Regions from separate parts of the Homo sapiens genome. Here region 2 is linked to region 1. Evidence: fine-mapped expression QTL. A gene starts in region 1. The other region holds a variant in brackets. All regions are shown on one strand. Distances are between the middles of the regions.

Region 1 (4,511 bases):
TTTTATTGTGATATTTTGTAAAAGTCAAGATTAATGCAAAACCATGATGAATAAAATGGTAACATTAAATCTATCTATCTATCTATCTATCTATCTATCTATCTATCTATCTATAGATATGTATATATATACACATAGGTCAGGCGCGGTGGCTCACACCTGTAATCCCAACACTTTGGGAAGCCGATGCAGGTGGATTGCTTGAGACCAGGAGTTCGAGACCAGCCTGGCCAACATGGTGAAACCCCATCTCTGCTAAAAGTACAAAAAATTAGCAGGTCGTGATACTGCACACCTGTAATTCCAGCTACTTGGAAGGCTGACGCACGAGAATCGCTTGAACCCAGGAGGCGGAGGTTGGAGTGAGTAGAGATCATACCACTGCACTGCACTCCAGCCTGGGCAACAGAATGAGACTCCATCTCAAAAAAAAAATATATGTATATATATATACACATATATGAGAGAGACAAGGTCTCACTCTGTCACCCAGGCTGGAGTGCAGTGGCACAATCATAGCTCACTGCAGCATTGACCTCCTGAGCACAAGCAATCCTCCCACCTCAGCCTCCCGAGTAGCTGGGACTACAGGTGTGCACCACCACACCCAGCTAATGCTTGAATTTTTATAGAGATGGGGTCTTGCTATGTTGCCCAGACTGGTCTTGAACTCCTGGGCTCAAGTGATCCCTCTGTCTCAGCCTCCCAAAGTGCTGAGATTATGGGCGTGAGCCACTGCTCCTGGCATACATTGTCCTAGTCTATTGTTAGAAGCAAGTTATTGGGTCCAGCTCACACTCGAGGGATCACACAGAGTGCAGACATCAGGAGGTGGGAATCATGGAGGAGTCTTGGAGCCTGTCTGCCTCACCTCCTCTCCTCTAGTATTCCTAGTTTTTTTTTTTTTTTCGAGATGGAGTTTTGCTCTTGTTGCTTAGACTGGAGTGCAATGGCAGGATCTCGGCTCGCTACAACCTCTGCCTCCCAGGTCCAGGTGATCCTCCTGTCTCAGCCTCCCAAGTAGCTGGGATTACAGGAGCCCCCTGCCACACCTGGCTAATTTTTGTATTTTTAGTAGAGATGGGGTTTCACCATGTTGGTCAGGCTGGTCTTGAACTCATGACCTCAAATGATCTGCCTGTCTGGGCCTCCCAAAGTGCTGGGGTTACAGGCATGAGCCACCAAGCCTGGCCTCTTTGCTGATTTTCATCTGTAACTTTCACTGTAATAAACCATAACTGGGAGTAACACCACTTTTCTGGGATCTATCAATCTCAGCAAATTATTGACCCTGAGGGTGGTCTCAGGGACCCCCGACACAAGCCCCATTTCCCAGCCACCATCTTTTGCAATCTCCATTGCCCTAGTCACCGAATGGCATATTCTTATCCATTTGCTATTTCCTGCCTCTCTCCTCTGGATCAAAGGCTCTGGAAGGTCGAAAACTCATCTGTCTTTCCCATGAAAGGCTGTAGAACAAAATGGTCAGGGGTCAAGTCCTGGCCCTGTCACTTTTTCATTGTTGCTGAGTCAAGGTCTCAGCCAGGGTGGAGTGCAGCAGTGCAGTCATAGCTTACTGCAGCCTTGAACTCCCGGGCTCAAGCAATCCTCCCACCTCAGCCTCCCTTGTGGCTGGGACTACAGTCACATGCCACCACAGCCAGCTATTTTTTTTCTTTTAAGACAGGGTGTCGCTCTGTCACCCAGGCTGGAGTGCAGTGGCATGATCTCGGCTCACTGCAACGTCTGCCTCCCAGGTTCAACTGATTCTCCTGCCTCAGCCTCCCGAGTAGCTGGAATTACAGGCATGCGCCACCACGCCTGGCTAATTTTTTTTTGTATTTTTAGTAGAGACGGGGTTTCACCATGTTGGCCAGGCTGGTCTTGAACTTCTGACCTCAGGTGATCCGCCTGCCTCGGCCTCCCAAAGTGCTGGGATTACAGGCTTGAGCCACCAAGCCCGGCCCCACACCCAGCTAATTTTTATTTTTTGAGACGGAGTCTTGCTTTGTTGCCCAGGCTGGAGTGCAGTGGCACGATCTCAGCTCACTGCAATCTCCACCTCCCAAGTTCAAGCGATTCTCCTGCCTCAGCCTCCGCAGTAGCTGGGATTACAGGCATCCGCCACTACGCCAGCTAATTTTTTTGTATTTTTAGTAGAGACGAGGTTTCATCTTGTTGGCCAGGCTGGTCTTGAACTCCTGACCTCAAGTGATCCGTCAGTCTCAGCCTCCCAGAATGCCTGAAGGTTAGCTTTTAAGTGTTGGTTACTTTATCTCCTCAGTAGCTAGATCAGGGTCCAGGTGGTCAGGATTCAGTCAAAAGCAAGTGATTAAGGAGACTCCTCTGGGGACTTTGCGATGGAGAGGCAGGAGGGGCCACGAGCGGGGGTGGGGAAGAGAAGAGGGCACAGAGGCCAGCGGATGAGAGAGACACCAGGGAGCCTGGGATGCCTGCCCGAGGCTCTGGCCACGCCCATGCCCTGCCTGTCCCGCTAAGGTGAGCTGGTCCTTCTGTGATCACCCGGGGAGGAGGCCTACAGGAGCTGCAGAGCTGAGTAGAGAGGGAAGGCGCGGGGGAGGCCAAGTCCCACGGGTCTGGGCTTCTAGGAGGAAACGTGTGGGAGGTTGGGACGGGAGGCGTGGGGGCGGGGGACAGGCAGGGCAGCTGGAGCCGGGGCTGTAGTCGGGCGCCGGCCAAGCCCCAAAGAAAGCCTGTGTTGGGCAGCGTCCGGTCTGGCCTGGCCTGGGAGGATGCCTGCTTGCTGCTGGGGGGCCCTGGAGATGCCGACGTAGCTCTGTACCCCCGGGAGGAATGTGACCCCCTCCCCACCCCCAGCCTCCAAATTTTTCCACATAAGGCTTCAGGGGTGCTCATGCCGCATGAGTTCAGGACAAAGGAATCAAAAGCACATGGACTGGATTCCCTAGGGAGGAGAAATTCTGGAAATAAGACGAAGAGGAGGACAAAGGGGCCCGGGGGCGGGGTGAGGGTGCTGGGACGGAAGCGGGGGGCGGGGATTGGGAGGCAGCCGGAGAAGGTGCCTGGCTCTGAGTGGCCTTAGACTGGGGACACATCTCAGCTGGGGATGAAGGCCACTGTGGCCCCGGACCGCCAGGGCAACTCCTTGGACCTCTCTGAGCCTTGTTCCTTCCTTTTTTTTCTTTTTTCTTTTTTTTTTGAGACGGAGTCTTGCTCTGTCACCCAGGCTGGAGTGCAGTGGCGCGATCTCGGCTCACTGCAAGCTCTGCCTCCCAGGTTCACGCCATTCTCCTGCCTCAGCCTCCCGAGTAGCTGGGGCTACAGGCGCCCCCCACCACGCCCGGCTAATTTTTTGTATTTTTAGTAGAGACGGGGTTTCACCGTGTTAGCCAGGATGGTCTCAATCTCCTGACCTCGTGATCCGCCCGCCTCGGCCTCCCAAAGTGCTGGGATTACAGGCGGGAGCCACCGCGCCCGGCCACCTTGTTTCCTTTCTTTTGGCCCAGATTCTTGGGGCAAAATACTTGGAGTCCTCCATGTCTCTGTCTCTGTTTTATTTTGTTCTCTCTTTCTGTTTCCTTCTTTCTTCTCTTTCTTCGTTCTCTGTCTCTCCTTCCTTCCTTCCTTCCTTCCTTCCCTCTCTTTCTTTCTTCTCCTTCCTTCTTTCTTTCATCTATCTCTGTCTCTCCTCCCTTTCTTTCTCCTTCCTTCCTTCCCTCCCTCCCTCCATTTCTTCCTTCCTTCCTTCCTTCCTTCCCTCTTTCTTCTCCTTCCTTCTTTCTTTCTTTCCTCTATCTCTATCTCTCCTCCCTTTCTTTCTCCTTCCTCCCCTCCCTCCCTCCCTCCCTCCCTCCCTCCCTCCCTCCCTCCCTTCCTTCCTTCCTTCCTTCTCCTTCCCCGGTCTCACTTTGTTGCCCAGGCTGGTCTTGAACTCCTAGGCTTCAGTGACCCTCCTGCCTCTGCCCCACAAAGTACTGGGATTACAGGCATGAGCCACCATGCCTGGCCTCTATCTCTGCCCCTGTCCCTTTCTCTCTCTCTCTATTGTATCAGCAAATCCCGAGAGCTCTATTTTCAAAATCTATCCAGCATCTACTCACTTTTCACCTCCTCCACAGCCCCTACCTGGTCCGGCCCCATCAACTCCCCCTTGGCCCAGTGCAGACTCCTCTGCCCTGGTCTCCTGGCTCCTGCCCTTGCTCGCCCGCTCCATGCTTTTCTGTCAGGGCACGTCCCTCCTCTGCTCAAGGACCCTCCAGGGCTCCCACCTCACTCAGTGCAAAAGCCAAATTCCTTCTTGTGGCCCACAGGGCCCTGCAGGATCTGCTCAGCACTTATCTGCCCTCACCTCCTCCTTCTCTCCCCTTTGCTCATTCCCTTCAGCCAGGCCAGCTTCCTCGCCGTTTTGGGCATGCTCCTACCTTAGGGGCTTTGCACGGCAGCTCACTCTCACTTGCAGCACCACCTCCTCCTCCAGATCCCCACATGGCTTTCTCTCGCCCCCTTCAGGTCTTTTTTTTTTTTTTTTT
Region 2 (4,000 bases), 27 kb before region 1:
ACTCCTGACCTCAGATGATCCACCTGCCTCGGCCTCCCAGAGTACTAGCATTACAAGTGTGAGCCACTGTGCCCAGCCTGTTAAATACTTTTGTAGGTAAATGCCATTACTCCCCTTTTAGCAAGGTGAAAGTAACTTTAACCTTTTAACAAGGTGAAAGTAACCTGTCCAAGGTCTATATTTAACAAAAGTCAAAGCTACTTTTGTTTTTATCTTTAAAAGATAAGGACTCAGCCTGGGCATGGTGGCTCACGCCTGTAATCCCAGCTACTTGGGAGGCTGAGGCATGAGAATCACTTGAACCCAGGAGGCGGAGGTTGCAGTGAGCCGAGATCACACTACTGCCCTCCAGCCTGGGTGACAGAGTGAGACTCTGTCTCAAAAACAAACAAACAAAACAAATAAAAGATAAGGACTCTTTCTTCCCCTTGTCTATATTTTTGTTTTTGTAGAGATGGGGTCTTGAAATGTTACCCAGGCTGGTCTTGAACTCCCAGACTCAAGTGAAGTGATCCTCCCACCTTGGCCTCCCAAAGTGTTGGGATTACAGGCATGAGCCATGGCACCCAACCTATCTTTTTTTTTTTTTTTTTTTCAGACAGAGTCTCACTCTGTCACCCAGGCTGGAGTGCAGTGGCGCGATCTTGGCTCACTGCAACCTCTGCCTCCTGAGTTCAAGCGATTCTCCTGCCTCAGCCTCTGGAGTAGCTGGTAGCTGGGATTACAGGCGCGTGCCACCATGTCTGGCTAATTTTTGTATTTTTAGTAGAGACGGGGGTTTCATCATGTTGGTCAGGCTGGTCTCAAACTCCTGACGTTGTGATCCACCCACCTCGGCCTCCCAAAGTGTTGGGATTACAGGTGTGAGCCACTGCGCCCGGCCAGTTCTTTTTTCATTTAATGTTTTTAATTTTTTAAAATCCTGCCTCCAAGAAAGCTTTGGTTTGATTTTTTCTTTTTTAGAGACAGGATCTTGCTCTGTCACTCAGGCTGGAGTGCAGGGGCTTGATCATGGCTCACTGCAGCCTTGACCTCCCAGCCTGAAGCAATCATCCCACCTCAGCCTCCTGAGTAGCTGGGACTACAGGCGCAGGCCTCTATGCCTGGCTAATTAATTTTTTTTTTTTTGGTATTTTTTGTAGAGATGGGGTTTCACCCGCTTGCTCATGCTGGTCTCGAACCCCTGGGCTCAAACAATCTACCTGCCTTCGCCTCCCCTTTTATAGGGGTGGGGTCTTGCTATGTTGCTATGGGCTGGTCTTGAACTCCTGGCCTCAAGAGATCCTCCCGCCTCAGCCTCCCAAAGCACTGGAATTACAAGCATGATAACGTTATCACATCTCACATGTGGACAGCGGTTTCTGAATAAGTATCCTGGCCAACGTCATACACTTGGTTATCAGGATTTGGCCCAGGCAGCTGGTCCCAGAGTCAGCCCTTAATCCTCACATCACTCTGCCTCTCTGGGGTGGTGGGGTAGGTACATGTGCACCTGTCCCATCTCAGACGCCAGGCACTGACCCTACAACCAAGGCCCTGCTCTCTGGATGCTGCCAGAATGGCTCTGGTGACCCCAAACCTCATGGATGGAAAGTCAGAGGACGTGGGGTGGTTCTTACCTTGACAGGTGTTCTCGCTCTCATTCTTGAATGTTTTTGCCCCAGAAACAGGCTCATATCCCGGGCTGCACACGCAGTCGTAGCTCCCCTCTGTGTTCCAGCAGTCCGAGAATTTTCCGCATGACACTTTCGACGGTGTTGCACACTCGTTGATGTCTGGAACACAACAGGACAGGGAGTCACCTCCCAAAGATGTGAGTTCTGTCAGGGCAGAGACCCCCATCCTGACTCCCCAACATGGGGCCTGCTGCTTAGTATCTTTTGGAAAAAATCTTAAGTTGCACTGCACAGGCTATGCTGCAGCTGGAGCAAGCCATTCCTGAAGACCACACTTGATCTTAGTTCTC[T/C]GGCTGGCATCTTAGATTTGGACACAGTGAACAGTGCTGAGGTGAGGGATGGACAGGAAGCTCCACATCCCCATCCCCAGTCTCTTTGTAGAAATTTAAACCCCATGGCGGCCGGGTGCAGTGGCTCACGCCTGTAATCCCAGCATTTTGGGAGGCTGAGGCAGGTGGATCCCCTGAGGTCAGGAGTTCGAGACCAGCCTGGCCAAGATGGCAAAACCCCGTCTCTACTAAAAATACAAAAATTATCTGGGCATGGTGGTGCATGCCTGTAATCACAGCTACTTAGGAGGCTGAGTCAGGAGGATCGCTTGAACCTAGGAGGTGGAGGTTGCAGTGAGCCGAGATCGGGTCACTGCACTCCAGCCTGGGTGACAGAGTGAGACTCTGTCTCAAAAAAAAAAAAAAGGAAAAAAAAACCTCATAGCCAGAATGTACCCCCTCCCCAGTCTTAAGGGTAAACTGAGGCACAGACTCCAGATTCCTGAGCACCCAGCTTCTCTCTCTCCAGGAAGCCATGCCTATTCACTTCTTACTTCTCCCCCTTCATATTCTTCCCTTATTTCCTTCCTTCCTTCCTTCCTCCCTCCTTCCCTCCCTCCCTCTTCTTTCCCTCCCTCCCTCCCTCTCTCTCTTGTTCTTTTCTTCTCTTTTTTTTTGAGACAGAGTTTCACTCTTGTTGCCCAGGCTGGAGTGCAATGGCACGGTCTTGGCTCACTGCAACTTCCGCCTCCCGGGTTCAAGCGATTCTCCTGCCTCAGCCCCCGGAGTAGCTGGGATTACAAGCATGTGCTCATGGGCCACCACACCCGGTTAATTTTGTATTTTTAGTAGAGATGAGGTTTCTCCATGTTGGTCAGGCTGGTCTCGAACTCCCAACCTCAGGTGATCCGCCCGCCTTGGCCTCCCAAACTGCTGGGATTACAGGCGTAAGCCACCATGCCGGGCCTACTTTTCTTTCTCTTTCTCTCCTTCTCTGTCTCTCTCTTTTTTTTTTTTGAGACAAAGTCTTGCTCTGGTCGCCCAGGCCAGAGTGCAGTGGCGCAATCTCGGCTCACTGCAACATTCACCTCCCAGGTTTAAGCGATTCTCCTGCCTCAGCCTCCCGAGTAGCTGGGATTACAGGTGACCACCACCACCCCCGGCTAATTTTTTGTGTTTTTAGTATAGAGAGGAGGTTTCACCATGTTGGCCAGGCTAGTCTCGAATTCCCAACCTCAAGTGATCTGTCCACCTCGGCCTCCTGAAGTGCTGGGATTACAGGCATGACCCACCATGCCGGGCCTATCTCTCTCCCTCCCTTCCTCCCTTCCTTCCTTCCTGCCTCCTTTCCTCTCCCTCTGCCTCCCCCTCCCCTTCCCCGTCTCCCTCCTCATCCCCCTCCCCTTCCCCTCCCCTTCCCCCCTCCCTCCCCCATCCCCCTCCCCTTCCCCCTTCCCCTCCCCTTCCCCTCCCCTTCCCCCTTCCCCTCCCCCTCTCCCTCCCCATCCCCCTCCCTTTCCCCCTTCCCCTCCCCTTCTCCCTCCCCCTACCCCTCTCCCTCTTCCCCTTCCTCTCCCCCTCTCCCTCTTCCCCTTCCTCTCCCTCTCCCTGAGACACGATCTCATTCTGTTGCCCAGGCTAGAGTGCAGTGGTGCAATCATAGCTCACTGCAGCCTCAAACTCTTGGGCTCAAATAATCCTCTCCCCTCAGTCTTCTGAGTACTCCTGGCCTCAAACGATCTGCCCGCCTCAGCCTCCCAAAGTGCTGGGATTACAGGCGTGAGCCACCACGCCTGCCCTCTTTTTCTTTTCTCTGGCCATGATGATAGTCTGGAAGGTAAGGCTGTGGCCCCTCACAACAACCTCTGTCCCCCACTGGCTGGGCAATGCCTCATAATCGCGGATGTCCCCTGCGCTGCCCTCAAGCCTCTGTACCGTCACAAGTCTCCGTCGGGGTGGTGATGATCTCAGAAAAAGAGCTGAACCCTGGATTGCAGCGACAGGCGGTGGCATTGACACACGAGGAGTTCTGAGGGCACCACCGGGCACAGCCTG

What was found.
Region 2: its variant is fine-mapped to the expression of LINC01841 in whole blood (TOPMed, PIP above 0.99).

The regions. Positions count from the first base shown.
Region 1 is chr19:14,361,860-14,366,370 of GRCh38, reverse strand. It overlaps LINC01841 (long intergenic non-protein coding RNA 1841), which reads left to right and starts at 2,381. Exons shown (of 4, transcript NR_134908.1): 1 at 2,381-2,499.
Region 2 is chr19:14,388,699-14,392,698 of GRCh38, reverse strand. It overlaps ADGRE5 (adhesion G protein-coupled receptor E5), which reads right to left. Exons shown (of 20, transcript NM_078481.4): 3 at 3,881-3,997; 4 at 1,620-1,775. Among named protein-coding and RNA genes, the nearest start is that of ADGRE5, 9.3 kb to the right of the region's middle. The variant T/C (reference allele first, on the strand shown) is at 1,967.